7 linked regions of the Homo sapiens genome follow. The protein of the gene in region 6 interacts with the protein of the main gene of each other region in a biochemical or structural test. Each region holds a gene or a part of one and is shown on either strand. Other genes may lie near its edges. The genes, in order: FMNL3, XKR7, RSBN1, MTMR1, DLL1, PATJ and GAGE12J.

Region 1 (4,484 bases), on a different chromosome or scaffold from region 6:
CCAGCTACTCGGGAAGCTAAGGCAGAAGAATGGTGTGAACCCGGGAGGCAGAGCTTGTAGTGAGCCGAGATCGAGCCACTGCACTCCAGCCTGGGCGACAGAGTGAGAATCCGTCTCAAAAAAAAAAAAAAAAAAAGAGATTTTAAAAGGGTAAGATACGCTGGACGCAGTGGCTCATGCCTATAATCCCAAAACTTTGGGAGGCCGAGGCAGGTGGGTCGCGTGAGGTCAGGAGTTTGAGATCAGCCTGGCCAACGTGGCAAAAACCCATCTCTAATGAAACTACAAAAATTAGCCAGGCATGGTGGCATGCACCTGTAATCCCAGTTACTCAGGAGGTTGAGGCAGAAGAATTGCTTGAACCCAGGAAGCAGAGGTTACAGTGAGCCGAGATCGCACCATTGCACTCCAACCTGGGCGACACAGCAAGACTCCACCTCAAAAAAAAAAAAAAAAAAAAAGGCAACATAAGGCAGTGATAAAATATTATAGAGTACTATGCAGTAATGAAATCATGATACTGGGCCGGGCGCAGTGGCTCACACCTGTAATCCCAGCACTTTGGGAGGCCGAGGTGGGTAGATCTAAGGTCAGAAGTTTGAGACCAGCCTGGCCAACATGGTGAAACCCCATCTCTACTAAAAATACAAAAAAATTAGCCAGGCGTGGTGGTGGGCGTCTGTAATCCCAGCTACTTGGGAGGCTGAGGCAGGAGAATTGCTTGAACCCAGGAGATGGAGGTTGCAGTGAGCCGAGATCGGGCCATTGCACTCCAGCCCGGGCAACAGAGTGAGACTCCATCTCAAAAAAAAAAAAAAAAAGAAATAATGATACTGAATAATATATAAGCAAATGAGAAAATGCTTAAAATAGTAAATGAACAAATCAGTTTACAAAACAATATACACAGTATGATCCCAATTGTTAAAAAATATATATACACGTACATCAAAGTGTTAATAGTAGATGGTGAGATTATAGGTTTTATTATCTTCTTTACACTTTTCAGTAAGTTCCAAATTTACCTAATAAATATTTATTATTTTCATAATCAGGAGAAAAGAAGCTATTCTCAATCCTCTTCCATCCTTTTAAAAACCTTCTCATACATTATTCCCTCTTTTAAAAACCATTTGGAAACAAAAACAGTTATATCCTACAATCTAGCAAGTTCTATTTTGAGTTTCTATCCCAAGGAAAACTCTAAATATTGAAAATACTTTGTACACCAAGATGTTCATCACAGCATTGTTTATGATGACAAACAGAAGCAAAAAACCTAAATATCTAAGAAAAGGTGTATGGGTAAGCAAACAAAGGTACCTTCACTTGATGGACCATCGTACAAGCATTTAAATGTTTACAGGCCAGGCTTGGTGGCTCTTGCCTGTAATCCCAGCACTTTGGGAGGCCGAGGTGGGCAGATCACTTGAGGCCAGGGGTTCGAGACCAGCCTGGCCAACACATGGTGAAACCCCGTCTCTACTAAAAACACAAAAATTAGCCAGGCGTGGTGGCAGGCGCCTGTCATCCCAGCTATTTGGGAGGCGAGGCAGGAGAATCGCTTGAACCCAGGAGGCAGAGGTTGCAGTGAGCAGAGATTGTACCACTGCATTCCAGCCTGGGTGACAGAGTAAGACTGTCTCAAAAACAAAAACAAACCACTTACAATTACTAGCCTGGGAAAACTAATGAAATAACAAAAGCAAAAAACAAACAAAAAAACTGGATAAAAAACATATATACTGGCAGGGCATGGTGGCTCATGCCTAAAATCCCAATACTTTGGGTGACTGAGGTGGGAGAATCACTTGAGCCTAGGAGTTTGAAACCAATGTGGGCAACAAAGCAAGACCCCATCTCTACAAAAAATGAAAAAATTAGCCAGGCATGGTGGCGCACGCCTGTGGTCTAGCTACTCAGGAGGCTGAGGCAGGAGGATCACTCAAGCCTGGGAGTTCAAAGCTGCAGTGAGGTGCAGTGAGCCATGATCATGTCACTGCACTCCACCATGGGTGACAGAGCGAGACTCTGTCTTAAATAAATAAATCAAATATCAAAACATTGTATAAAACTCTATGCAGAGAAAAAAATATAAAGGTTTTAAAGCACATCAGCTGCATTTGGTAAAGGAACTAAGAAAATATTTGCATTTGGTAAAGAAACTAGAGAAAATATGGATGTTTTTCTTTAACCTAAATCTTTAGTCTTTTCTTCTTTCTGAATTGTCCCATACTTTCTTTAGAGAATAAGTATTACTTTAAGAGGAAAACAAAACAAAACAAAACAAAAAAACGCTGAATCTCCCTCTGGGCAATGAAAACATTCCCAAATGACAGAGTCCACTCCATCAGTCCCTTCCCCACCACACACAGGCTTCCCCCAGACTAAGGCAGGGTCATATCAGAAGGTCAAGGGAATAAGACTCCTCTCTGTGGTCTAGGGTCTTCTCTGTGGGGTCTCTGAACAAGAAGAAGGTTCCTCTGACCAGCTGCTGTGAAAGGCCCTTTCCCTGCCCCCTCCCAAGTTCTATTCTAGCCTGAACTAATTCACCACAATCCTGAGGGCTGGGAAAAAAATTTCCACCATGGTGATTTGGAACCTGATATTTAGTCCAAGTTTTTCCCAGCCCATTTCTGTGTCAAAGGAGGCCCCTCAAAGCCTCTTAGACAACTAGCACCCAGGCCAGCTTAGCTCCCACATCAATGCTACACTTACAGAAAAACCCCCAAGTTGTCAGTCATCACCAGGGAAATGTGAGAGGAGAAACTGCAGCAGGGATAGCTCCTGTCACACAACCCTACCCTTATGCCCTGAAAGCCTCCTCCTAAGGGATATACAGGGCTTTTTCTGGCATCAGAACTTTTAGACTCCATGTCAAGTCTGTAGTAAATCAACAAAGAGAAAAATCAGAGTACAATCACAACAAAGACAGACAGCTATCCTTTCAAAGACCTTAGAGCCCTCTGCCTCCCCTCTCTATGGAAAGTCCAGTACTGGCCAGAATACTAGCTTCTGAGCAACTGAGTTTGGGTAGTAATCTAGTTTGGACCAAAACACACTGGGACTGTATCAGACCAGAGATTGGCTCTCATTCTGGTATTCATAAAGAGGAGCTCCATTAATTGCCCCAACCCCAAACTTCTCAATACCCAACAGAATGGGAAGTGCTACTCAGATAGGGGGTAAGGAAGGATGCCAAGAAGCAGTGTAACACAGCAGCTTCACAACCTTTTTCCCATCGAGGCACACCTAGAAAATATTACTGTTTCTACAGTACATGGGGTAGAAGCTGATCCCATCCAGAGGGGACTGACTGGGAACTTTAGCTGCCCCTAGGAATAAGGGGATCAGTATTCCAGCACATCTGTGATCCATCTGCAGCACACTAGTAGGGAAGCCCTGAATTAAGGCACTGGGCTGGGTTAGGATTCTTGGAATCAATGTTCTCATCAAATCTTCTCATAGCCCTCATCTCAAGCTCTTCAACTTTGGCTGACAGATCATGTGTCTAGAACAGAAGGCTGGGAGCCTGTGGTCTTGACTCAGCACTGATACAACTTCCCCAGCGAGGATACTCTTCAGGGGGTTTTCCACAGACACACTTGGGGCTAAGGAAGCCCTCCAGCTTACAGCAGCAGCCATATTCCGAGACTGGATATACACAACAGGGTAATTGGTTTTATCAGATTTCTAAACTTTAAAACCCCTTTTTCGGAACACAAGTGATCTCAGATCTGAGTCACTGCTGAGAGGTACAAACTTAAAAGCTACCATTTACTAAGCATATAGTAGATGCCAGACTCTGCTAAGTATTTGACTTCCAATTTCATTAAATCCACACAACAACCTCATGTGGCAAATGCTATTATTATCCCCATGTATAAGAGAAGACTGGGAATCAGATTAAGTAACTTGCTTGAGGTCAAACACTCTTCTAACCAAAGACTATGGATGAAACAGTTGAATCCACTCTGACTTCAAAGTCCATAAGCTTAACCAGGACACCACTATGTCACCTCAACAAACCTCCCAAATAGCTTTTTCAAAAAACCTAACCAATTATAATGAAGCTGACAATCTAGGAAAGAAAAAGGTGAGAAAGGAACAGTTTATCTGACTGTTTCACACCATCAACAAAAATAAGCTAATCTGGCCAGGCACAGTGGCTCATGCCTGTAATCCCAGCACTTTGGGAGGCCAAGGCGGGTGGATCACCTGAGGTCAGGAGTTCGAGACCAGCCTGGCCAACATGGCGAAACCCCATCTCTACTAAAAACACAAAAATTAGCCAGGCTTAGTGGCACGCGCCTGTAATCCCAGCTACTGGGGAGGCTGAAGCAGGAGAACTGCTTGAACCCGGGAGGCTGAGTTTGCAGTGAGCTGAGATCGTGCTGCCGCACTCCAGCCTGGATGACAGAGCCAAACTCCATCTCAAAAAAAAAAAAAAAAAAAAAAAAAAGAAGCTAATCTATAATCTATAT
Region 2 (3,353 bases), on a different chromosome or scaffold from region 6:
TTGTGTCTCCCCCAAATCTGCCTTACCCCCAGCCAGCTCCCTGCTACACCTGTGTCCCACAGAGGCATGTCACCCATGAGAGTCGGGAAAGACAGAGGGCAGGGAAGGTGAGGCCTGGGGAAAGTCCAGGCCTCTGGATAAGGGCTGAGGGAGCTGGGAATATCCAGGGAAGGTCTCGCTTGCAGTCAACACCCTCCTAAGTACTCGAGTTCTGCAGGTTCTTCCCTTGGAATTAATCTGGACCTGGAGTCCACAGAAGCCTCAGACAATAGGGAGAAGGTTTTCTGGGACGAAGGCTGCATGGGATGCAAACTCAAATGCCTCGAGATAATGAAACTAAGAGTAATGGAGACAATAGGGAGTGTTGGGGACTCTGGCAGACAGGAGAGTGAGTGTGTGCCCTGCCTGTAGGTACTAAAATTCAAATGTTTGGGAAACTGCTGGCCACTCATATTTGGCCCACGTGCCACCAGTTTGAGACTTACGGTTCAAAATGTTGAGAAGGTTCTGGAGTGTCCTGCCAAGTGGAAACCCCTCAGCGGAAGTCAGGGACAGAGGCTGTGGCTCCCTCTGAGACTTTGCTAGTCCAACCCTAAATCCCCATCACCTGGCTATCTGAGAACTGAGCCCACTGCCCTCTCAGCTGAAAAGGGAAATCTGGGGGGTCCACAGGGTCCCTGGTTTGGGAATCATCTGATAAGGGCTACAGGCCCCTCCAGTGCCTCATGGGGTTAGAGGCTGCTGGAGTCTTCTCCAGCTTGGGGGCCCCTGGTTAGGAGGAATCTACATTGGGTTGCAGGGGAGTCCAGGTGCAGGATGTGGACTGAAAGCCAGGACCCAAGAGTCCCATTCTGTGCTGGCCCCTGCCACCTTTGGCACCTGTCTCCCTCCCAGTTCAAGCTGTGGTGGGGCCTGCAGTAGAGGTTGGTAGGGGGAGCTGTAGTTTCTATATTAAAGTGCTTTGCAGTGTCTCAATGGAAGGGAACAAGTGGGTGTCAAGCCGCATGGGCAGTAGTAGGGTTGGGGTTTGAGCCCCCTTCCCAACCATAGAGGCTTCTGAGACCTGGGGCTGGGGAGGAAAGGAGCTTCAATGTGCCATTCTGGTTGGGGAGAGGATAGGACATTTCTGGGTCCTTGGCTGCTGCCGGTAGAGGTATGGGGAGGAAAAACTCTAGAGTGGGAGATGTGGAAGTGGAAAAGGAAGGCCCTGTCCAGGCCTGGCCTGGTTTCTGGAGACAGAAAACTCCCCAGGGGACAGAGAGGTTACCCCCTTGTGCTTAGCTTCTGCCACCCTTCCCTTCTCTGGAGGAGAAGGCTGCCCTCTCCTCAGCAACCCTGGCCTTTATTCTATGCATAACCACTGCAAGGGCACCCCTGGCCAGGCTGAATGGGTGGGGGTCCCAGGGCACCTGCAATAATCTCAGAATGGAGGGTATCCTGGGACAAAGAGGGGGTACAGAAGGTGCCAGGGGGGAAAAGGTGATTCCTCCATCTCTCTCTCACCCAAATCCCCCCAGATCGAATCTGACCCTTTTCCCTGGTCTCCATTGTGCTAAACCACCGAACTTGGAGGAGCCTCATATAAACATAGCCCCCAGCCCCACTGGCTTTCCGAACCCATCATGAAATAGCTGGAAGGTATCTGAACCGTTCCCATAGCTCCCTCATTATTTTCTTCCCTGAGGATCCTGTGGTTTAGGAGATTTTTCTCCCAAACCAGCCTCATTTCTTGAAGAAGAATTCATTTTCCCATATTAAATTAACTCAAGCTGAGCTTCTGATTGCAGATAAATGTTTCTAAGGCCTCAAGTCAACTTCTAGGGCTTGAAGGTGGGGGAATATATGTATTTTATTGAGTTGCTTAATACAAAATTCTCAAAAGCACTTGTGGGCACTCATTCCTGCCTTCACAGGCCCTCAGGGTCTGGGACCCCACGTTGGGAATCAATGGTTTAGACATCCAGCATCCTATTTTACTGAAGGGGCAAGCCCAGAGATGGGAGATGGCCAGCCCAAGGTCACACAGCAAGTTGGTGGCAGGGTGAGACCAGAACCCGGTTCTTTTGAGGGTCCCACCAGAATATCCCCAGCCCTGATCCTCCCCTCCATGCCCCTGGAACTCTAGGAATCACTAGCCATGCCTGAGGGGCTAATCTCCCTCTGTCAGCACAATTCCGAGTGATTCTTCCCCTCCCTGTCGTCTCTTCCTCCCTAACGGGCCCTCACCCCTGTCCTCTTCTGTTTCCTTTTCCTGGTCCCACCTCCTGGTATTTACTACATCTGTGCCATCCCTCATCCCCCTGACCCCCATTCACCCTCCGAGCTTCCCCCAGGAGGGGGAGGGGGAGGGGGCCCCGAGCTGGGGCCTCTTTACTGAGACTCTTTTGTACACCACAAACTTTTTGTATATTTTTAATTTTGCTGCGACATGAGATATTAAAAGTCATTTCAGTACGTGCTGCTTGTGTCCTATTGTTTTGGCTGTTCTGGGCCAGGGGAAGGAGATGAGGAAGGAGGGATAGGTAGGGTACCACTTGCCACAATCTCTGTGGCTCAAGAGAGAAAGGCCTTTGGCTGGGAGAGGGTGGGACATTACACAACATCTCCTGTTTATTGGGCAGCATTTCAATCAATCAACCAGAATCCTCAGGCCAAAAGTTCTACAGATTATCTCCAAACTCATTTTACAGATAAAGTGGGTGGGGGGAGATAAAGGGTGGGGATACTTGTCAGAGATCACAGAATGAGTCTATGACAAAATCAGGGCCCAGACTGAAGTTCCTAACTCCACTACAGCCAATACTTATTGAGAACCTACTGGGTGCCAGGCAGTTCTTGGCATAGTGAACAAGAAAGATATAAAACAGGCAAGGTCCCTGCCCTCAAGGAGCTTACATCCTATCCTAGGGGGTATTGCCTCTAAGAGGGCCTCTGTCTCCAGGGCTTCCATCCTAATCCAGTGGTTCTCAAACTTCAAAGTGCATGAGAATCACTTGGAGAAGAGGGGATATGTTTTAAATGCATATTTCTGCCTCCATAATCAGGGAATAGGTAGAACATGCCTGGAAATCTGCATTTTTAAAGTTCTTCAGGTGTGTTTAAAGAACATGCCTGGGAATCCTGCATTCTGGTGCAAGCGGATCTGAGGACCTGGACCTTGCAGATCTTTTCTTTTCTTTTTTTTTTTTTTCCAGAGACGAGTCTCACTCTGTCACCTAGGCTAGATTGCAGTGATGCAATCATAGCTCACTGCAGCCTTGTACTCCTGGGCTCAAGCAATCCTTTCGCCTAAGCCTCCAGAGTAGCTGGGACTGCAGGCACATGCCACCATGCCCAGCTAATTTTTAAAACAT
Region 3 (4,484 bases), about 52 Mb from region 6:
TTGTTTCAACTGTTTATGAACAACTCCAAATGTCTGAGATTGTAATAATTTGTAATTAGTCTCCACATGAATTCAGATTAAATACTGTTGAACTGCTGTGCAGGAAGGAACATGTCTCTTAAGTGAACTCAAGGGTGGCAAACTTCTCTAAAGAGCCGAACAGCAGGCTTTGCAGGTCTTATGGTCTCTGTCTCAATTACTGTATTCTGCTACTGTAGTGCAAAAACTACCATAGACAATATATATGAATGAACAGAGCTATATTCCAATAAAGCTTTATTTCTGGACACAGTTTAAATTTCGTATGATTTCCATGCGCTACAAGGTCGTTCCAACTATTTTAAATTGTAAAAACCATTGTTAGGCCAGGCACAGTGGCTCATGCCTGTAATCCCAGCACTTGTGGGAGGCACATCACCTGAGGTCAGGAGTTTGAGACCAGTCTGGCCAACATGGTGAAACCCCATCTCTACTAAAAATACAAAATTAGCTGGGTGTGGTGGTGGGCGCCTGTAATCCCAGCTACTCAGGAGGCTGAGGCATAAGATTCCCATGAACCCAGGAGGTGGAGGTTGCACTGAGCTGAGATCACACCACTGCACTCCAGCCTGGCACAGAGCGAGACTCTGTCTCAAAAAAAAAAAAAAAATCATTGTTACATTACAGGTTGTACTGATTTTTGAAAAAAGTGCAAAAGCAATTCAATGGAAGATTAATCTTTTCAACAAAAGGTGCTAGAGCAACTGGATATCCTTAGGCAAGAAGAAAAAAAATGGCGACCTAAACCTCACACCTGTACAAAATTAACTCAAATGGATGACAGATTAAAATACAAAAGTTAAAATTATAAAACTTTTAGAAGAAAACAAAGGAGAAAATCTTTGGGATCTAGGACTTGGTATGTTAGATATGATGCCAAAAACATGATCCATTAAAGAAAAAAAAAAACTTAGTAAATTGGATATCAACAAAATTTAAAATTTTTGCTCTGTGAAGTATCCCACTGAGAAGGTAGAAAGGACCAGGCACAGTGGCTCCTGTCTGTAATCCCAACACTTTGGTAGGCCAAGGCGGGAGGATCACTTAAGCCCAGGAGTTTGAGACCAGCCTGGACAACACAGAGAGACCCTGCCTCTATCAAAAAAAAAAAAAAAAAAAAAAACATTAGCCAGGTGTGGTGGTGCACACGTGTGGTCTCAGCTACTCAGGAGGTTGAGGTGGGAGGATCACTTGAGCCCCAGAGGTTGAGGCTAGAGTGAGCCATGATCACATCACTGTGCTGCAGCCTGGGTAACTGAGTGAGACCCTCCCCAAAAAAACAAAAACAAACAGGCTGGGCGTGGTGGCTCATGCCTGTAATCCCAGCACTTTGGGAGACCAAGGCGGGCGGATCACCTGAGGTCAGGAGTTCAAGACCAGCCTGACCAATATGGCGAAACCCCGTCTCTACTGAAAAACACAAAAATTAGCCGGGCATGGTGGCAGATGCCTGTAATCACAGCTACTCGGGAGGCTGACATAGGAGAATCGCCTGAACCCAAGAGGTGGAGGTTGCAGTGAGCCAGGATCGTGCTACTACACTCCAGCCTGGGTGACAAAGTGAGAATCCATCTCAAAAAAAAAAAAAAACAACCAAAATAAAAACAAGCAAACAAACAAAAAGGATGGAAAGACAAGCAACAGATTGGGAGAAAATATGTGCAAACCATACAAAGAAGCTGCACCTGTGATCTACAAAAAATTATCAAAACCCAGTAATAAAAAATATACAATTCAAGGGCCGGGCGCAGTGGCTCACGCCTGAAATCCCAGCACTTTGGGAGGCTGAGGCGGGTGGATCACCTGAGGTCAGGAGTTCGAGAACAGCCTGGCCAACACAGTGAAACCCCGTCTCTACTAAAAATATAAAAAAGTAGCTGGGTGTGGTGGCAGGCACCTGTAATCCCAGCGATTCGGGAGGCTGAGGCAGGAGAATCGCTTGAACCCGGGAGGCAGAGGTTGCAGTGAGCCGAGATTGCACCATTGCTCTCCAGCCTGGGCAACAAGAGTGAAATTCTGTCTCAAAAAAAAAAATTATATATATATATATATGTATATGTATACACACACACACACACACACACACACAAAATTCAATTAGAAAATAGGCAAAAGGTATAAAGAGACATTTTACTGACCAGGATATATAGACAGCAAATGATGATATGAAAAGATGTGTATTATCACTAGCCATTTGGGAAATGCAAATTAAGATCATGATGATGTATCACCACACGTCTATTAAAATTGCTAAAATAAAAATAGTGACAATACCAGATACTGGCAAGAATGTGGAGAAAATGGATTTCTCTTACACCGCTGACAGGAATGTAAAATGGTACCGACACTCCAGAAAATACTTTGGCAGTATCTTAAAAAACAAACAAACAAAATAAATATATATAGTCATCCTTGGTATCCATGGAGGATTGGTTCCAGAGCCTCCCAGGGCAACAAAATCCAAGATGATCAAGTCCTTCATATAAAATGGCATAATAATTGCTTATAACCTATGCACATCCTCCCCTATATTTTAAATCATCTCCAGATTATTTATACCTAATACAATGTACATGCTATATAAATAATTGTTATACTGTATTGTTTAGGGAACAGTGACAAGAAAAAAAAAGTCTGCACAAGTCCAGTACAGACAATGTTTTTTTGAAAATATTTTCAATCCCAGGTTGGCTGAATCCATTGATGTGGAACCCATGGATACAGAGGGCTAATTGTATTTACCATACGACCAAAGAAATGAAAAGTTACATGCACACAAAAACCTGAACACCAATTTTCATAGAAGCTCTATCTATAATAGCCAAAAACTAGAAATAATCAAAATGTCCTTTCTTATACGGGAATGATTCAATAGGTGAACCATGGTACATCCATACCATGGAACACTATTCGGCAATGAAAAAGAGGGATGGATCTCAGGGACATCACACTGAGTGAAAAAGGGCAATCTCCAAAGATCACATACTGTATGATTCAACTTATATAATAGTCTCAAAATGACAAAACAGGTTAGTGGCTGCCAGAGGACAGGGACAGTAGAGAGACAGAGGGAGTGCCTAAGGCTGTAAAGGGTTTGTGGTGGTGGAACAGTTCTGTATCTTGATTGTAGTGGTGGTTACACTAATCTACATATGATAAAATAGCATATAACTACATATACATTGTACCAATGTCAATTTCCTGGTGTTGATATTATACAATAGTTATGTAAGATGTAGCCACTGAGGGAAACTGGTAAAAGGTAAGGACTTGACTATGTTTGCAATTTCCTGTGAATCATTAATTATCTAAAAAAAAAAAACAGTTAAAATAGTTTCCAAAAATCTGAGGATAAGCGAAGGAAGGACATAGCTTTGTAAGTAACAAGAATCTGCCCACTCTCCTTATTAATCTTAGAGTTGTTTTAGGGACCATGCATAATAAAATAATAAAGGCCGGTTTTAAGTAAGTGCCTACAATGAGCCAGGCACTGCTGTAAGTACTTTCACACAATGCCCTATTTAATCCACACAAGTTCCTTATAAATGAAATACCACAACCCCATTTTATAGACAGGAAAAGTGCAGTTGAGAGAGGGTAAAGCAATTTGTTCAGGCTCACACAGTAAGTGTTAGAGCCATGATTTAAACTCAGATTAATACCAGAGGCATGCCTCCTGCATACCACTGTAACAATAAAGATGTTCAGAGGACAAAAAAGATATCAGTCAAACTATGTGCAAAAGCCTGGATTAAACAAAGTTAAACCAGTTTATTTTCTGTAGGGTTTTCAAAACTTTTAAAATGCCAGTTTGCCAATTCATGTTACATATGTAGAAGGCTACAGTACACAGTTTTTCTCAAATGTATTTGACCAAAAAATTCTTTTTCACCCAAAATATAGTTTGGGTATATAATCCAACAATCTCTCAGCCAAAAGTTAAAATGTTTAAATGGGCTTATCTTAACCCACTTCTCTTCTTCACATGTTGGCAAACTACAGATATTTAGAGTGGTGTTGTCCAGTGTGGTAGCCACTAGCCATATGTGACTAATTATAAATTAATTAGAATTAAATAAAATCAAAATTTCAGTTCCTCAATCATGCCACATTTCAAGTCTGTTCAGGAACCACATACGGCTACCATATTGGTCAGCACAAATACAGAAAATTTCCATCATCTGAGAAAGTTCTATCAGTCAGCATTAGGTCAGAAGTGTGTTTTTTAAAGAACATGGGGCCTGTGCAATCTTCAGAGAAAGATTGTAAATTATTACACATGTTATTGCCACTATCCCCCATAAAACGGGGCCAGGTCAGAGATCCTCGATGATATAAAGCCACTGTAATGTCAAAGCACAGGGAAAAGGTAAACAAAGGAGTGGAAAAAATGAATAGCAGGAAGAGAAAGCAACATCATGAAGCCTGGAGATGAAGCTTGAAGC
Region 4 (4,484 bases), on a different chromosome or scaffold from region 6:
ACTCAATGTTTTGGTCAGGATGAAACAATTCTGACTACATGAGCTCTAAAAATCCCCTTCCATCCCCAATATTCTATGATTCTAAGAAAAACAAATCCTAAATCAAACTATTACTAAAATCTAGCCCCATTCCAATTTGATTGACTAATTTTACCTTGTCTCCTAATTTTAAAAACATCTTTGTATCTCAACAATAATATACGTGGCAGGGTAAGGACAAAGTGAATATACAGTCTCTTATAAAATCTGACACTCTGCCACCCCACCTCTCATTTTCCTCCAGTGGCCAAGTGACTCAGGATTACAACAGATGCAAACTCTGGGCTCAAACCATTACTCCCAGCTGTCTGCTACTACTTCTGTAATGATGTCCCTCCCACGCAGCTATGGCATCATGCTCAGTATCTAAGAAAGAAGCATTTTCTCTAGGATGATTCAGTGAAACCAGCAATGCCAACTGGTAATACAATAGCATGATAACTTGTTGTTGCTACTCCTTTGTCATTCTCTACTACTTTTTGAGGGTATGACTGAAGTTCCCCTTATACTTAGTTATAGGAAATCGTAAAAGAGGGAGTCATAGCAAACAGATTGTTTATATAATTAGGTATTTGTTGAGAATCAAAGGTATGTTCAGGTTTATAAGCTTATTTTTCTGCTTTCCATTTTTGTTCACTAGTTTCTTTTTTGTCTTAAATCTCTCCATATTAGATCTAACGCAATATATATTCCTATATAAATGACAATGTTTATTACTTACAGGGACTCTGCCTTTTGCTCGAAAAGCTGCCACTTTTGAAAGGTCATCATCTTTTACACTAGTTGGCACAACAATGATGGCAGGGTAGGTGTCACAGAACTCATAATTACTGTTTATTTTGGATATTTTCCAACTCTCATTTGGCAAGCCCTGTAAGGTGTTGGAGAAAGAAGAAGAGGGTGAAATGCATGACTTTACACTTTGAAAAAGTACTAAGCATGAAGTACATCCATTTCTTATTTGCAACTAAAATCCGTTTATAATTTATTGTTTATTGTAACTTAAAAGTCAATATATATATTTATTCGGTAAAACCCATTTCCTAGACATTTCTAAAAATCTAAAGAAGCATAAGAATATCCAAACCATACTAAAACATGAAAATTATACGCTAGAATCACATTTCTATATATTTCTTGTCCTATTTTCTATAAATAATGAGCTCTGTTATTTTTGAGAATATACTCAAAAGTCCTTTAGAAACACAGATACCTCTTACGAATGTCTAAAATAAGTAACGTAAAACATTATACCAAATATAAGGTAGAGACAACGTCATGAAACAAACGTCATGAAAATAAGATCTTAGTGGAATAATTTGAAGCTGACAATGCACTGAAGAGTTCCCAGACCCGGGAACACTGGATCAGACAGATGTAGTCACACCACATGCTTCGAATCTAACTGTAGTCAGTGGTTTGGATCCTTACTCATCAATTCTTTACCAGAACATCTAATAAAAACCATCTGGCAAATTTGGTTTTTAAACCCGTCCTTGTCCTTGAGTCCCACTCACCCTCTGGAAACAGGATGAACAAACATGACAAAGTCTAAGGTTTGGCACAGGGAGAAGAGAGAATCAAGGAAAGATGGAGAACCTATAAGCTAGCAGTTAAACCTGTGCATAACTTGTTCGAAAAAGTTTCTTCTCCACCACATCATTTCTAACCTTTTAGAAGAGAAAAAGATGCTCAACCTATTATTTTCAGTTTGATAAGCAATATACTTTACCTGTCTCTTATATTCAGATACTGGATCATAAACTTTCCAGCCATTAATTGGAAATTTTTCTTTATAGCTGAATGCAAATAGTGCCTGGACACAAAAACCACAAAACACATATGTTACTATTTCTTTTTATATCATATACCCAATATTAAAGCTTTTCATTCTAATATGAGCTGAGTGTATTAAGATTCCTATTTTAGTCTGTAAATTTTACAGCAACAAAGTAGCAGCTTTTCTTAAGCATTACCCAGAACTGACAAATTTCAAATATTCTAATATTAGTCACCAACAGAGGAAAAAAGAGAGGAAAAAAAAAAACCTCTGGAAAAAGGAATAATTAAACATAGGATATTTGGACCCCCACAAATGCATGCAGAAAAGGTTTACTCTGGTGTATTTACCTGTCCGTTAGAAAGAGGAAATGCATGTTTGTTGAGGTTTTCAAATATCCCTAGTTTACTCTGTTCTTCCTGTTTATAAGCAAGCCGCAAGTTCCTCATATCCTGTTAAACAATTAGCAAAACTCGGTTATTCAACATACATCAGGCACCTATAAGCCAGATACCGTGCCATAAATAAGGAAATTATTTTTTTTTAATTCATTTCTCCTTTTATACTTTATCCTGCTCCAACGGCACAGTCTCCACTCATTGCAACCTCCGCCTCCCTGGTTCAAGCAATTCTCCTGCCTCAGCCTCCCGAGTAGCTGGGATTACAGGCACCCACCACCACTACCGGCTAATTTTTGCATTTTTAGTAGAGACAAGGTTTCACTATGTTGGTCAGGCTGGTCTCAAACTCCTGACCTCACGTAATCCAACTGCCTCGGCCTTCCAAAGTGCTGGGATTACAGGCATGAGCCACTGCGCCTGGCCCCACTTATGTTTTCAAAGAAGGACTATACATACATTCTCATGTGCATAGGCTATCTGTGGAGGGTTACATTAGAAATCGGCCACAGTGGGTGCCTGAAATGAGTGGAACAGGGTGGCAGGGTGGTGGGTGGAAGGAGACTGATTTTTTACTATACACAGCTTTTGTATCTTTTGAATTGTATATCACCTGTTAAAAAATAAACCCCACACCTTGTAAAGCTCTTAGGCATGATCTGAGAAGGCTGGGAGCATTACCTTAGTAATCTAGGTTAGAGAACATTTAAAGCAGTTGTTAGCAAATGCTCACCCCAGCCATAAAAATATCTTAGTAAAAGAGCCCCAGGATGCCTGCCTAAGCAACATAATTTCCTGACATGCCCTCCCTCTAAGCTACATGGCTACACACATACACCTTGGTGGCTGACTGAGCTGACTTGCTATTTAAGATTGCTTACAAGCTAAGGAAAGAGCACATGCAAAGATTCTGGGATGTGTGTGTGTGTGTGTGTGTGTGTGTGGGTGGGTGTGTCAAGTATGAACCACCAAAGGAAAGCCCATGTGACTGGGATGGCCAGAATGAGAGGAGGGCAGTTCGAGACCAAGCTGCAGAGGAAAGTGGGTCAGGCAGAGCAGTCTTGTAAGGAGAGTTTTTCTTTTAGTCTAAGGATAATGGGAAGATACTCAAGCGTCATGAGAAAGGGGACGACATGTTTCAAAATTGCAGAACCGATCAAGTCACCCCTCTGCTTGCCATTGTTCCATATGGGGAACCCTGCCTGAGAAGGACAGTTGTCAGGGAGTGACTAAAGTGAGTTTAGTAAGCCAACAGATTCATGATCTGGAAGAGTAAAGGGTTCTTTGGAAAAAAAAAAAATGGTTTTGAACGCAGTCTAGGACCAACCAGAGGGAGCTATCTTCAGAGATTGAATCAAAATAAATAGATTGTAAGGAATCCTAACCCAAAATTTGGAAGGGGCGCTGATGATCCTGCAGGCAGGATCTCTTTTCTGGTACTTCAGGTAGGGTTTTTGGTAAACATTACCAAAGTCAAGTCACTGGGAATAAAATACATCAATTAGGAGTGGGTCCTACATGACTTCGTGATTAAAGTTATCACACACATTTCTACTTAAATTATTAGAAGAAGGGTACAAAATAAACAAATAAGCCCAGCTCAACATAAAAATTCCAAGATAGCCAAGAAACTTAATCTCATTTTTAATCACAGAATTTATGGGCCACTGCTGTCCCTTTAGGAAGTCTCTGACCATCCACATTGTTCTGAACGTAGTCTTAAAACAACAAACTGGGGAAATGTATTGGTCTCTGCTTTTCACTTGACTTCTCTGAGATGTGACAAACAATCACTTAGGTTATAGGTCCACGTTAATTAGAAATACAGTCAGCCCTTCCTATCCATGGGTTCCACATTGGAGGATTCGAACAACTGCAGATGGAAAATATTTTTTAAAAGGATGGTTGCATTTGTGCTGAACATGCACAGACATTTTTTCTTGTCATTATTCCCTAAACAATACAGTATAACAACTATTTACATAGTGTTTACACTGTATTAGTTATTATAAGCAATATACAGATGATTTAAAGTATATGGGAGAATGTTCTTAGGTTATATGCAAATACTACATCATTTGACATAAAGGACTTGGACATCCATGGATTTGGGTATCTGAGGCAGAGGTCCTGGAATCAATCCCCCACCGATACCAAGGGACAATTGGACTTCGATGGAAAAGGTTTACTTCAAAGGGTTACATAATAGTTTAAATTCGATATGAGATTTGAAGAGGTTGCTATCCCGAAAACATTTGAGTTACTAG
Region 5 (4,170 bases), on a different chromosome or scaffold from region 6:
TGTGGGCATCACTTACTGAACCTCAGGCGGCCGCAGGTGCCCGAAGCACCTTGTGGCCCTGAGCAAGTCATTCACTGCTTGGTCTAGGTTTCCACAGAGAACTTCATAACAAATGCCCTGGCCTCTCTCATTCCCCAGGCCTTTCCAGACTCAAAGATAGAGTTTCCATCGAGAATTCCTGGCGGTCTGGATAAAAGTGATTCATAAACTCGAGGTCACTCACAAATGCTTGTTTTTAATGCCACCTCAGTATTGACCGCTCGCCCGAGTCTCTGAGCAATCACCAGCTGCCCCCTTACCATTAGAACAGGGTGAAGAGCTGCAGTAGTCAATTTTCTTCTCACAGTTGAAGCCGGAGTAGCCCACGGGGCAGCGGCAGCTGTACCCTCCATCGGGGCTGTCTGAGCACCGACCCCCGTTAAAGCAAGGGCCGTCCGCACAGGTCATGGCACTCAATTCACAGATTTTGCCGTAGAAGCCGGGTGGGCAGGTACAGGAGTAGCTGTTCTCGAGATCCTACACGATGGAGAGGTCAGAAAAGGCTTTCCAAAGTTGCTCCAAGGAGCCCACACACTCCATTCAACACCAGGGCACCCCAGCTTCCGGGTGAGATGCCATGGAGCCTCCGACTCACCGTGCAGCTCCCTCCGTTCTTACAAGGGCTGGGGTCACACTCGTCAATCCCCAGCTCGCAGGTGGCACCTGTGTACCCAGGCCGGCAAGAGCAAGTGTAGCTCCCCTGGCCCGTGTTGGTGCAGGTGGCTCCATTCTTGCAGGGCTTATGGTGTGTGCAGTAGTTCAGGTCTGTGAAGGGTGGGGACAGGAAAAGTAGGAGATAGGAAGCTCGACATCAAATGCAGGAAGACTTTATTTTTCCAGTGATCAAACAGCCAGGGAAGTCCAGGGCTGCTCTGGAGGGAGCAGGCTGCCTCAGGGAGAGAAGGCTTACCCTGGTTGCAGAAAAGGCCCCCCCAGCCTTCCTGGCAGTTGCACTGCCAGGGCTGCTGGCAGGTGCCATGGAGACAGCCTGGATAGCGGATACACTCGTCACAGTACCGGCCCTGCCAGCCCACTCTGCACCTTGGAGAAAAGCAGAAGACTCAGATGGACGTTGACTGTTGCTGGCTTTGCAGTGGACATTCTCACCCTAGAAACCATCTTCCCGCAGCACCAGTGAGCCTCTGGTTCTCCAGATTAGCAGAACACTGGGTCACCTTGGGAGCTGCAGCCTGGGCCTGGGCCCCACCAGAGGTTCTGGCTTCTTGGGTGTTAGGGCAGCACCAGTGTCAGCATCTCAAAAATCACTCCCTGAGTGATTCTAGGATGAGGCAACATTTGAGAACCATTGAACTATACTATCATTTCCTGTGCCAACTCTTTTTAAACTACTATCTGTAAATTCTCATAGCCGTTAAGGGGCTTAGACGAATGACAACTCCATGACCTTACATGCTGCCAAACATTGATTAAGTAGAAACATGAGAAAACGGCCCCCTGTTCAATCAATCTTACTGGAGTTTTTCGAATGATCACCTAGGGCTGTTTTTACAAATACACCAGCTGTGAAAAGATAACAAGAAAAGGCAACAAAACAAAACACCACCTTGTGCAGACTTACTTGCATTCCCCTGGTTTGTCACAAAATCCATGCTGCTCATCACATCCAGGCAGGCAGATCGCTACAAGCAAAGGAAAAACAGGGTCAAGCCCCACGCCAAGTACGTCCCAACAGGGCTGCCGCCCTTGGGGCCAGGACACAACTCGCCGGCTTCAGTCAGCAAATCCCAGCTGAGTTAATCTTCCCAGGTTGTGGAGGACTGACCCCCCTGCCTAGTAGCCTGGGACTTGACTCAGCCCTGGGGATGAGCATTCTTCTTAACACAGGGGCTCAAGGACAAAAGGGCTCTCGGAAGCCCCCACCCCCACCCTATCCCCTTTTCTTCTAAGAGAGGGTCAGAAGTCTTCCCCCTCCTCCTCCCCCACTTCCCAATTCTGTGCACAAAGCTCCACCTCTTAATATCCCAGAAAGTGTGTGTGCAGATAAGAGTGGACAGCTGGTATGCAGGGTGCCAGGGCAGGACAGCTGCTCCATTGTCTGTCCTCCACGGCAGCTGCCCCAGCGCAACAATGCCGGCCTCCCCCGCGCCCCCGGCCCCACCTCCTCACACACACCCCTCGCGTGTACACACACACACACACACACACACGCACACGCACCCCTTCCGCCAATGGGAGCCGGCGGGTGTCCCTGCGCCTATCCCCGGAGAGATCTAATCTATGGCACGCGCGAGCTGGGGGCGGGGAGAGACTTCAGTGTTTGAAGAAAAAAGTTTAAGTTTCTGGCTACCCTGTGGTGAAGAGAGGCAGGGAGGAAGGGTGGGAGGCAGCAGACTGGCCAGAGGCTCCCGCAGGGCAGGGAGTAGACAGTGGGCTTGAGGCTTGGAGCTGGCTCTTGCTGCCTGGTTATGAAACTCATTAACAAGCAGCTCCACAAGTTGTTTTTTGTTTTTTTGTTTTTCCCCAGAACCAGTTCAGGCCAAGGCAAAGCTTAGAAGGAGCTCAGTAAGTTCCGGAGGGAATTTGGGAAGCTAAGGAGCAAGGACATCAAGGCACTCAGTGAATGGGAAGACCCACCCTCAACCCCAGGCACTACCCAGCTCCTGCCAGAGGTTCTGGGCCTCCCAGAGCCCCTCTCCAAGGTTGTCCAGTTCCAAGGAAGGAGAATGACAGTTCCCTGGAGTTTCTGGGCAGCTCCAGGACCTACCCAATCCCCAGCTGTAGAGAAATCCGGTACCAATGGGCTGGGACGGCCAGGCGTGCAGGCGAGGCCTCAGTCAGCTGGAGAGAGGGCTCCTGAGGTCCCCATGAGCCAGAACCAGGAGCCAGCACGGCCCCAACCCTGCCCTAGTCACCTGCCTGCCATGACATTGACACATCAATACCTAATAAGAGGCAGGTAGAGCCTCTGTCACTATTGGGAAGACATTGCTTCTCCAGACAAGGTGCTGCCTGAGCATTCAAGCCAGACGGGGCTGTGCACCCCTCGCCCACACAGGCCTTGGAGACCTGGCCTCAGCAGCCCACAGGAGTGAAAGCCTGCTCTCTGGCCAGCATAGACAGTGCGTGTCACAGGGAGTATCCGGAAAGGCGTTTGCTCCAGAGAGGTCAAGCACACCAGCTCCAGAGAGAAAATGGAACGTTTCCCAGTGTGATGCTGTTCCAGCACTGGGAACTCGGGTTGAAATGGTGCCCCTGACACACAAGCTCTCTCTGTGTTCCTCCCTTCCTTCCTCCTCTCCCTCTCTAATACACACACCCTGGGGGTAGCACTGGCTTTACTTCCTGACCCCTGGCCCTGTCTCTAAAATCCTCCCTGATTAAGAAAGGCAGTTCCGATAGTGGATAAACACAGCCTGGGATGTTAAAATGTCTGCGTTGACCCCAACCCCCCCACTGACGAGCTGTGACTTATAGCAATCCACTTCTGTCCTCTGGGCCTCAGTTTCCCCACCAGAACATCTCTACAGTCCCAAGCCCCCCGTGGCTCAGGAAGCCCCGTCCCTGCGCGCGGTCCGTGTTCGTGGACGAGTGAGCCAGCGGTGCCTTCCCAGAGACTCACGCTCTGTGCAGTAGGGCCCTTTCCAGCCAGGGTTGCACACTTTCTCCCCACGCTCCCCACAGGTGAAGTGGCCGAAGGCATCGTCCCGGGGACGGCAGAAAACGGAGCAGCCCTCTCCGTAGTAGTGTTCGTCACACACGAAGCGGTAGGAGTACTTGAGGTCCGTGCGGCCGCTGCTGTGCAGGTCCTGGGACCACTCCTCGCCCACCGTCAGGTGCCTCTGGGTGGCCAGGCGGCTGATGAGTCTTTCTGGGTTTTCTACGGGGAGAAGATGCTCCTGGTTGGTTCTGAACGAGAACCCTGTGACTCGGGACAGAGCGGGGGTGGGCCGAGACATTCAGCACGGGAAGGAGGCCCAAGCTGCTCCACCCTGAACTTTCTGGGGCACGTGCAGAATGAAAGCTGTCCGGGTTTGGCTGGGGGATGGGTGGGCAAAGTCCAATGCTATTAACTGGGGAAAGCAGTTTTGGGGTTTGGGTTTTGTTTTTACCTGTTGCGAGGTCATCAGGAGAATCTGTGTGGAGAGCTTCAATAATCAGAGAGAAGGTGCC
Region 6 (4,484 bases):
CAGGAGGTGGAGGTTGCAGTGAGTTGAGATTGCACCACTGCATTCCAGCCTGGGCAACACGGTGACTCCATCTCAAAAAGAAAAAGAAAAAGAAAAAAAGAGTCTACTTTCATTAGATATCATCACACAGGAGTCTGAAAATCAGGGTTCGACAAATTTATGAATGAAATACATCTTATATAATCTTCTCAAAAGGGAAATTTAGCAACATGTATAAAAGCCTCTAATAACAAGCTTGGCTTTTGACCCCCAAGTTTCATTTCTAGGAATTAATCCTGAGGAAGTTACTCATGATTTGGGCAAAAATATAAAGATGTTTTACTATAAAAGATAGCAAAAATTGAGAAATATGCTAATTGTTCAATAATAGGAAACTGGTTAAGAAACTTATAGCACATTTGGCCGGGCACGGTGCCTCACGCCTGTAATCCCAGCACTTTGGGAGGCCAAGGCAGGTGGATCACGAGGTCAGGAGATCGAGACCATCCTGGCTAACACGGTGAAAACCCGTCTCTACTAAAAATACAAAAAATTAGCTGGGCGTGGTGGCAGGCGCCTGTAGTCCCAGGTACTCGGGATGCTGAGGCAGGAGAATGGCATGAACCCAGGAGGTGGAGCTTGCAGTGAGCCGAGATCGCACCAGTGCACTCTAGCCTGGGTGACAGAGCAAGACTCTGTCTCAAAAAAAAAAAAAAAAAAAAAAAAAAGAAACTTATAGCACATTCATAAGATGGAGTACTATGAAATCGATAAAAATCATACTATATGCTCTCAAAAAATACTTATTTAGTATGTGCCACATGATACCATTTTTGTTTTATAAAACTTTACATGTACAGGTTAAAAGACTAAGATTGAAAAAATAAATAAATAAAAATAAAACTTACACATAGCACAGAATATAGTGGATGAGATTTGCCAAAAAATTCATAGAGGTCATCTCTGTGCTCTACTGTACTTTTCTAAGTCTATTTATTGATGTTATTTAGACCATATTTTTATCTCAGTAACTTGAAAGAGCACACTCACAATCCAATAAACTGTATTGGGGAAAATGTACATTTAGTGCAAATCCAACACAAACCAGAAAAATACATACAGCAAAATGACTGACTTACCCTGTTTATCTCAACAGTCCTTGGTTCCATATCTGTGCCTATAAAGAAGCAACACAATTAACTTTTTAATATTAAAAAATAATATATTTAGCATATAATATTGCCCCATGAAAAATGGTTTCATTTTCTAGGTCTTTCAAGAGAAGACACTAAAGCAAGCAGGTATTGTACCCTTCCTCAGCATCCAAGCTGGTAGCCAAGTCACCAGGGGCCATGTCCTCTTTTTTTTTTTTTTGACACAGAGTCTCGCTTTGTCACCCAGGCTGGAGTGCAGTGGCACCATCTCAGCTCACTGCAACCTCTGCCTCCCAGATTCAAGCAATTCTTCTGCCTCTGCCTCCAAATAGCTGGGATTACAGGTGCCTGCCACCACGCCCGGCTAATTTTTGTATTTTTAGTAGAGACGGGGTTTCACCATGTTGGCCAGGCTGGTCTCAAACTCTCGACCTCAAGTGATCCACCTGCCTCGGCCTCCCAAAGTGTTGGGATTACAGGCGTGAGCCACCGTGCCCGGCCTGCTGTGTCCTCTATTTTAAAGAAGTGCTCTCTGTTTGAGATCAATGTGGCCATAACCATTTGGTCTGACAAAAGTGGATGGGCTATATAGCAGCAGCTGCCTGGAACATGGTGAGTAAATGCTTGGAGGATGACTCATTTTTGTGTGTGTGTGTGGTTTTTTTTTTTTTTTTTTTTTTAGATGGAGTCTCACTCTGTCGCCCAGGCTGGAGTGCAGTGGTCCGATCTTAGCTCACTGCCATCTCTGCCTCTTGGGTTCAAGCGATTCTCCTGCCTCAGCCTCCCAAGTAGCTGGGATTATAGGCATGTGCCACCATGCCCGGCTAATTTTTGTATTTTTAGTACAGGCGAGGTTTCTCCATGTTGGCCAGGCTGCTCTCAAACTCCTGACCTCAGGTGATCCGCCTGCCTTGGCCTCCCAAAGTGCTAAGATTACAGGCATGAGCCACCGGGCCCGGCTGAGTCATTTGTGTTTCATTGTACATTTTTTTCTACCTTAATCAAAGATAACCCTCCATTCAACAAAAGACTTAAAAGGACCCCTTGTCCCACCCTGCCCCCAAGGATATACACACTTTTTTTTTTCTTTTAACTGGCCCAATTTTCCCATAGAAGGTATACACACTTCTGACCTTTCTCCAGTGACCTGTAATTTATTAATTTTCTCTTTGTAAGTAATTTTATTTTACCATGCACTCCAGCTTTCTGCTTTTCTGTTTTTCAGGTGCTTTGTGTTGTGCCACTGAAGGAATTTCTTTTTTTTTTTCTGGAGACGGAGTCTTGCTCTGTCACCCAGGCTGGAGTGCAGTGGCACGATCTTGGCTCACTGCAACCTCCACCACCCCCGCCAGTTTCAAGCAATTCTCCTGCCTCAGCCTCCTGAGTAGCTGGGACTACAGGCGTATGCCACCACGCCCGGCTAATTTTTTTTTGTATTTTAATAGAGACGGGGTTTCACGGGGTTAGCCAGGATGGTCTCGATCTCCTGACCTCAGGTGATCCGCCCGCCACAGCCGTCCCAAAGTGCTGGGATTACAGGTGTGAGCCACCATGCCTGGCCACCACTGAAGGAATCTCTATGGCTTTCCTACCTTCAGAACATGCCTTTCAGAAAGCTCAGCTTATGTGGCCAAGCTCAAAAAATTAAAAAACATTTATATTAAAGAAGACTGGTTTTTAAAAAACACATTTTTTTTTTTTAATTTGGGTAACAGGATAGTTTTGCTCTGGGTGTGTCCGTGTAATACCTGAATTTTTCTGGGAAGGATCTGAAACTCTTTTTGTGCCAACCAGGTTTTGCAGGCCAGTGATGACAGGAGCGAAGGAGGGATGACAGCTGCTGTGTGCACTCTGCTGACTACCCTGAAAGAAAGACCCAGGGGTCACCTGTGTGCAGACACTGACTTGACCCCCTAAATGCATACTTATCCATTAGTGTGCCAATTACTGATGTCACCATAACCATCTAACAGAAAATCGTGAGGAGGCCAGGAAAGAAAACAAAAATCACCCACACTATTCTCTTACTACCTCAACCCAATCCCATTTAGACATTTCCTCCATTGCTTTCTCCATTATGTGTGCTTTTGTATATGGTTTCAATCACCAAGGTGGAGACCATAGAATCATTTCAGCTGTTCTTGCTCCACATAAAATCAAAACCATTTTCCTAGGTTGCCACATAGTGTTTATGTATATATAGTCAGCTAATGGGCACTATGTTTCATTTGGGGTTACAGTCAACTTTATTACCCAAAATGTATTATGTATTTTGCTAAAACAAGTATAATAAGACCTTGATTAGCAGAAACCTGCCAAAATAGAACCCTCAATTGTGGGGAAAAAAGCACCAAATCTGAAGGGAAAAAGACTTGTTTTAGGGATATATAACATTTTTTTCTCAAAGATTTTCCTAGAATCAGTAATAATTTAGTCCAATCTGCTAGATCTCCATTACCTGTCCCTTTATTCATTTAAATGAATATGTGAGGTTAATACTGTGTAGTCTTTTAAGGCTAGTGGCTGTTCAACAAAAACTGTATACATAGTGAAGGGCCTTTCTTATGTAGACGAAAACATTGCAAATAATGAATATTTTTTTCTACCAAATTATTCTGCATCAAAATTTTAAGCTAAGCCTAAGATCACTGTTATCAGTTCATAAATTATAATTTGGTCCATTTTCTTAACTCTATGATGAAAGTTGTTTAATATTTTAATTCCTAAAATATGAAAACCTTCAAATATATAGAAAAGCTGAAAGAATTATACAATAGACATCCATATAAATAGCACCTAGATTTCACAATGAGTATTTTGCTATATTTCCTTTATCACATAGCCATTTATCTATTCATCACTCATCTTTTTTTAAAAAATTCATTTCAAAGTAAGTTGTAGATCTCAGTATACTTCATAGTGGCTATATACATTTAAAGGAGTGTTTTTATACTTTTCCTTAAAGGATATGATTTAAGTAAATGGTACTATAATAGATAACTAATCAGAACTGAGGAAGTACAGTATATTATAACTTTTGCCTTTAAAAAATTTCAGAAAGGTGTGTTTGCCAAGACCTTTATTGCATTGTATTGTAATTTTTGAGGAGTCTCCCTCTGTCACCCAGGCTGTAGTGCAGTGGTGCAATTTCAGCTCACTGCAACCTCCGCCTCCCAGGTTCAAGTGATTCTGTTGCCTCAGCCTCCTGAGTAGCTGGGGTTACAGGAGCCCACCACTATGCCCAGCTAATTTTTGTATTTTTAGTAGAGACAGGGTTTCACCAGGCTCTTTGGCCAGGCTGGTCTTGAATTCCTGCCCTCAAGTGATCTGCCCGCCTCGAACTCCCAGTGC
Region 7 (3,408 bases), on a different chromosome or scaffold from region 6:
GAGCTGAAATTGCATCACTGCACTCCAGCCTGGGTGACACACTGAGACTCTGTCGCAAACAAACAAACAAACCAAGAAGAGGGAGAATTCACAATTTCACAAGATCTTATACTACGTATTCAGCTCTCCACACGGAAAAACTAGGATGAAGCAGAGGGCCCGCTCACTGTCTTACTGACAATGAAATCTCAATTCAGAGATTTTCAGATGACTCGGGCCAGGGTTTCATGATTTGTGATTAACAAACCATGCGAAGCAGATGATCTCTGTGTCCCACGCATTCTATGCAACAGGATCAGAGTATGAAAGAAACGGAATGCAAAATGGTTTTAAAGTCTCTGACTTAAACTCACTATTTTCATAAGAACCAAAGATAGGTTTAGAAGGGAAAGGACTCACTCAGAATCTCGCCAAGGCTGTAAGAGCTGGTATTAGAACCCGCATGAGTGCTTCAGCATTTTTCACACCAAGTGATGGGTGTTACAAACGTGTTATGTATTGATTAAAAGCAGACCTTTACAAAAGCATCTGAAAATTGTGAGCTACTGGTTTAAGGATTTATACTCAAAACTTTTAATTCAACATAGCTTTGACTCAGTTTGTTTCCCTATCTGACAGTCTATCAGTCGGGTGCTGGGGCCTGAACTACGTTTCAAATAACCTTTATATAAGAAGTCTGTTACTAAAGACGCAGTATTGTTACCTCTCTGTTATTAAAAATATAATGCTGGGTCGGGCACGGTGGCTCTCGCCTGTAATCCCGGCAATTTCAATGGTCGAGGCAGGTGGATCACCTGAGGTCAGGAGTTTGGGAACAACCTGTGCAACATAACGAAACCCTGTCTCTACTAAAAATACAACAATTAGCTGGGCGCGGCGGAGCCCGCCTGTAAGCCCGGCTCCGCCAGAGGCTCAGGCAGGAGAATCACTTGAACCCTGGAGACAGAATTTCCAGTGAGCCGAGATGGCACCACTGCACTCCAGCCTGGTCTTCAGAGCGAGACTCCGTCTCAAAAACATAGTAAGACTTACAATATGATACTGTGGAAACAGACACCCTACAATGTGCATGCCTAATGGATTGCCTACCTTCTTCAGGCGTTTTCACCTCCTCTGGATTTGGCGGGTCCATCTCCTGCCCATCAGGACCATCTTCACACTCACACCCAGTCTGTGGGTGACCCTGTTCCTGGCTATCAGCTTCAGGCTTCGGCCCTTAAAAATAAAAAATACGTATCAATTTAAGCAGTAAAACATAACGCATGAATAAGAAAATAATATTCACGCTCTCGGTATTATTATATAAAAGCTTTAGCTAACATAATAATAAATGTGTTGATAAGAATCCCAGGAACATTATTTCAGGAGTCCGTTAGCAGAAAACAGGAAAACAAGGTGTTCCAAATATTACCCTCTTCCTTTCCGAAGACTGCCCTCAGACAACTTTGCTGCCTCCTTTGCACTTCTCTCTTATTCTACTTCTGATTGTCCTTCTCGTATTAAATGACTCAAGGCTCAAATCCCGTCTCTCACAGCACTTACACTCCTAGCGCTTAGACTCTTACATGGCATGAGTAGCCACCAATAAACGCTGAGTGAGAAAACTCTTTTAAAAATACATGAAAAAGCCCAAACTGCAGAATATTCTGCAAACCAACTGGTCTATCCTCTCCAAAAATGTCCGTATCGTGAATGACAAGAAAAATTAAGGAAACATTACAGGTTAAAGGAAACTAAAAACACCTGAAAAGCACATGCAAGGTGTGATTCTGAACTGGACTCTGGATCAGAAAAAGAAATCCTATCAATAAAATTATCTGGGCCGGGCGTGGGGTCTCACGCCTGCAATCCAAACATTTTGGGATGCCAAGGTGGGCAGAGCAGGTGAGGCCAGAAGTTCAAGCCCGCAGTGGCCGGCGCCTGTAGTCCCAGCTACACGGGAGGCTGAGGCATGAGAATCCCTAGAACCTGGGAGGTGTGGGTTGCAGTGAGCCGAGATCGCACTACTGCACTCCAACCTGGCCCACAGAGAGAGACTCCGTCTTCACACAAAGAAAAAAAAAAAGGAAAAAAGAAATTTTCTGGGGAACTGGCAAAATTTGAGTATGCACTCTGTATTAAATGACTCCATTTTCTCATTGTTAAATTTCCTGATTTTCATCTTTGTGCAGTGATGATCCAAGAAATGACTTTCTCTTTGTTCTGACGATATACACACCCTCAAGTACATAGGGTAAAGGACCATAATACCTGAAACTTTATCGAGACAATTCAGCATTAATAACAGTATGTATGTGTGTGTGTGTGTGTGTGAGTGTGTGGGCAGCACGGTAAGAGACGGAGGGAAGAGATGTGAAACTGATGAAGCGAAAGCTATTAACAATTGGTGAATCCAGATGAACAGTATATGAGTTCATTGTACTATTCTTGCAAATTTTCTATGAATGCTATGTCTTGAAGATACATACAGTAAAAATTTAAAAGAATATATGATAACTGCACTGAACTTTAGGAAGAAAGGAATTTCCAATTGTGGTAAAAAATACAGATATCCTAAAATTTACCATCTTAACTATTTTTAAGTGGTACAGTTCACTAAGGAGTTACGTTTGCAACATTACCAGCCACTAGGCACAAAAACTTTGCATCTGTGTTTTCCTATACCATGAAAACTTTACTTATTTAATGAATTTATTTATGTATTTATTTATTTATTCATTTATGTATTTATTAGCGATGAGGTCTCACTGTGTTTCCCAGGCTGGGCTTGAACTCCAGGACTCAAGCAATCCTCTCACCTCGGCCTCCCAAGTAGCTGGGACTATGAGTGCATGGCATTCAGCCCAGCTTTAGACCTTTCTCCTAAATGACAATCTAAGGATAAACCACAGGACATGTATAATGCTTATATTCAGCCCTAGAGTACCAACAGCAGTGTGCGTCAGCTGAGAAATCTGAAGTCTACCACGTGGGTAGGATTTCAGTTACAATTACAATGTCAGTTTCTGAAGGATTGATTAGCTGGACGGATTTGAGGACTATGGAAAATCTTACAGTCACGACACCCATTACCTATTGGGGTAAAGAGAAACTTCACTTTGTTCAAATAAAGTTATATTTAGGTCCGAAGGTCCTAAAGGTAATATTCCATAAATGAACCCCGTGAAGAACAAAGCACCAAATATAACATTGTTTGTGAATCACAGAAAATATACTGTCCCGCACTGAGAATAAGGGAGTGGGTGGACAGCAATTAATGGGCATTGTTGTCAGTCAGATTCTAGGAACTTTTAACAGTGCATCCCTGGAATAATCCATGACCTCCATTACATAAACGCTTCCTTTCAAAACATTTTATCTCGGAGAAATTATTTCCATCTCACGTTAATCTCAGGATAATTCCGTTTT

Evidence for each region.
Region 1: the proteins of PATJ (region 6) and FMNL3 interact in a test that uses a peptide from one of them, tested with the Homo sapiens proteins (one large-scale study listed by IntAct).
Region 2: the proteins of PATJ (region 6) and XKR7 interact in a test that uses a peptide from one of them, tested with the Homo sapiens proteins (one large-scale study listed by IntAct).
Region 3: the proteins of PATJ (region 6) and RSBN1 interact in a test that uses a peptide from one of them, tested with the Homo sapiens proteins (one large-scale study listed by IntAct).
Region 4: the proteins of PATJ (region 6) and MTMR1 interact in a test that uses a peptide from one of them, tested with the Homo sapiens proteins (one large-scale study listed by IntAct).
Region 5: the proteins of PATJ (region 6) and DLL1 interact in a test that uses a peptide from one of them, tested with the Homo sapiens proteins (one large-scale study listed by IntAct).
Region 7: the proteins of PATJ (region 6) and GAGE12J interact in a test that uses a peptide from one of them, tested with the Homo sapiens proteins (one large-scale study listed by IntAct).

What each region holds. Positions count from the first base shown.
Region 1 is NC_000012.12:49,700,275-49,704,758, forward strand, and holds part of FMNL3 (formin-like protein 3), read right to left. Parts: intron 1-4,484. UniProt on the Homo sapiens protein: Plays a role in the regulation of cell morphology and cytoskeletal organization. Required in the control of cell shape and migration. Required for developmental angiogenesis.
Region 2 is NC_000020.11:32,000,929-32,004,281, forward strand, and holds the end of XKR7 (XK-related protein 7), read left to right. Parts: 3' UTR 1-2,459; downstream 2,460-3,353.
Region 3 is NC_000001.11:113,805,700-113,810,183, forward strand, and holds part of RSBN1 (lysine-specific demethylase 9), read right to left. Parts: intron 1-4,484. UniProt on the Homo sapiens protein: Histone demethylase that specifically demethylates dimethylated 'Lys-20' of histone H4 (H4K20me2), thereby modulating chromosome architecture.
Region 4 is NC_000023.11:150,727,896-150,732,379, reverse strand, and holds part of MTMR1 (phosphatidylinositol-3-phosphate phosphatase MTMR1), read right to left. Parts: intron 2,272-4,484; coding exon 2,170-2,271; intron 1,856-2,169; coding exon 1,772-1,855; intron 911-1,771; coding exon 761-910; intron 1-760. UniProt on the Homo sapiens protein: Lipid phosphatase that specifically dephosphorylates the D-3 position of phosphatidylinositol 3-phosphate, generating phosphatidylinositol. Could also dephosphorylate phosphatidylinositol 3,5-bisphosphate to produce phosphatidylinositol 5-phosphate.
Region 5 is NC_000006.12:170,284,620-170,288,789, forward strand, and holds part of DLL1 (delta-like protein 1 precursor), read right to left. Parts: coding exon 4,110-4,170; intron 3,878-4,109; coding exon 3,620-3,877; intron 1,680-3,619; coding exon 1,619-1,679; intron 1,081-1,618; coding exon 950-1,080; intron 805-949; coding exon 635-804; intron 517-634; coding exon 300-516; intron 1-299. UniProt on the Homo sapiens protein: Transmembrane ligand protein of NOTCH1, NOTCH2 and NOTCH3 receptors that binds the extracellular domain (ECD) of Notch receptor in a cis and trans fashion manner.
Region 6 is NC_000001.11:62,119,693-62,124,176, reverse strand, and holds part of PATJ (inaD-like protein), read right to left. Parts: intron 2,997-4,484; coding exon 2,882-2,996; intron 1,157-2,881; coding exon 1,119-1,156; intron 1-1,118.
Region 7 is NC_000023.11:49,324,497-49,327,904, reverse strand, and holds part of GAGE12J (G antigen 12J), read right to left. Parts: intron 1,216-3,408; coding exon 1,090-1,215; intron 1-1,089.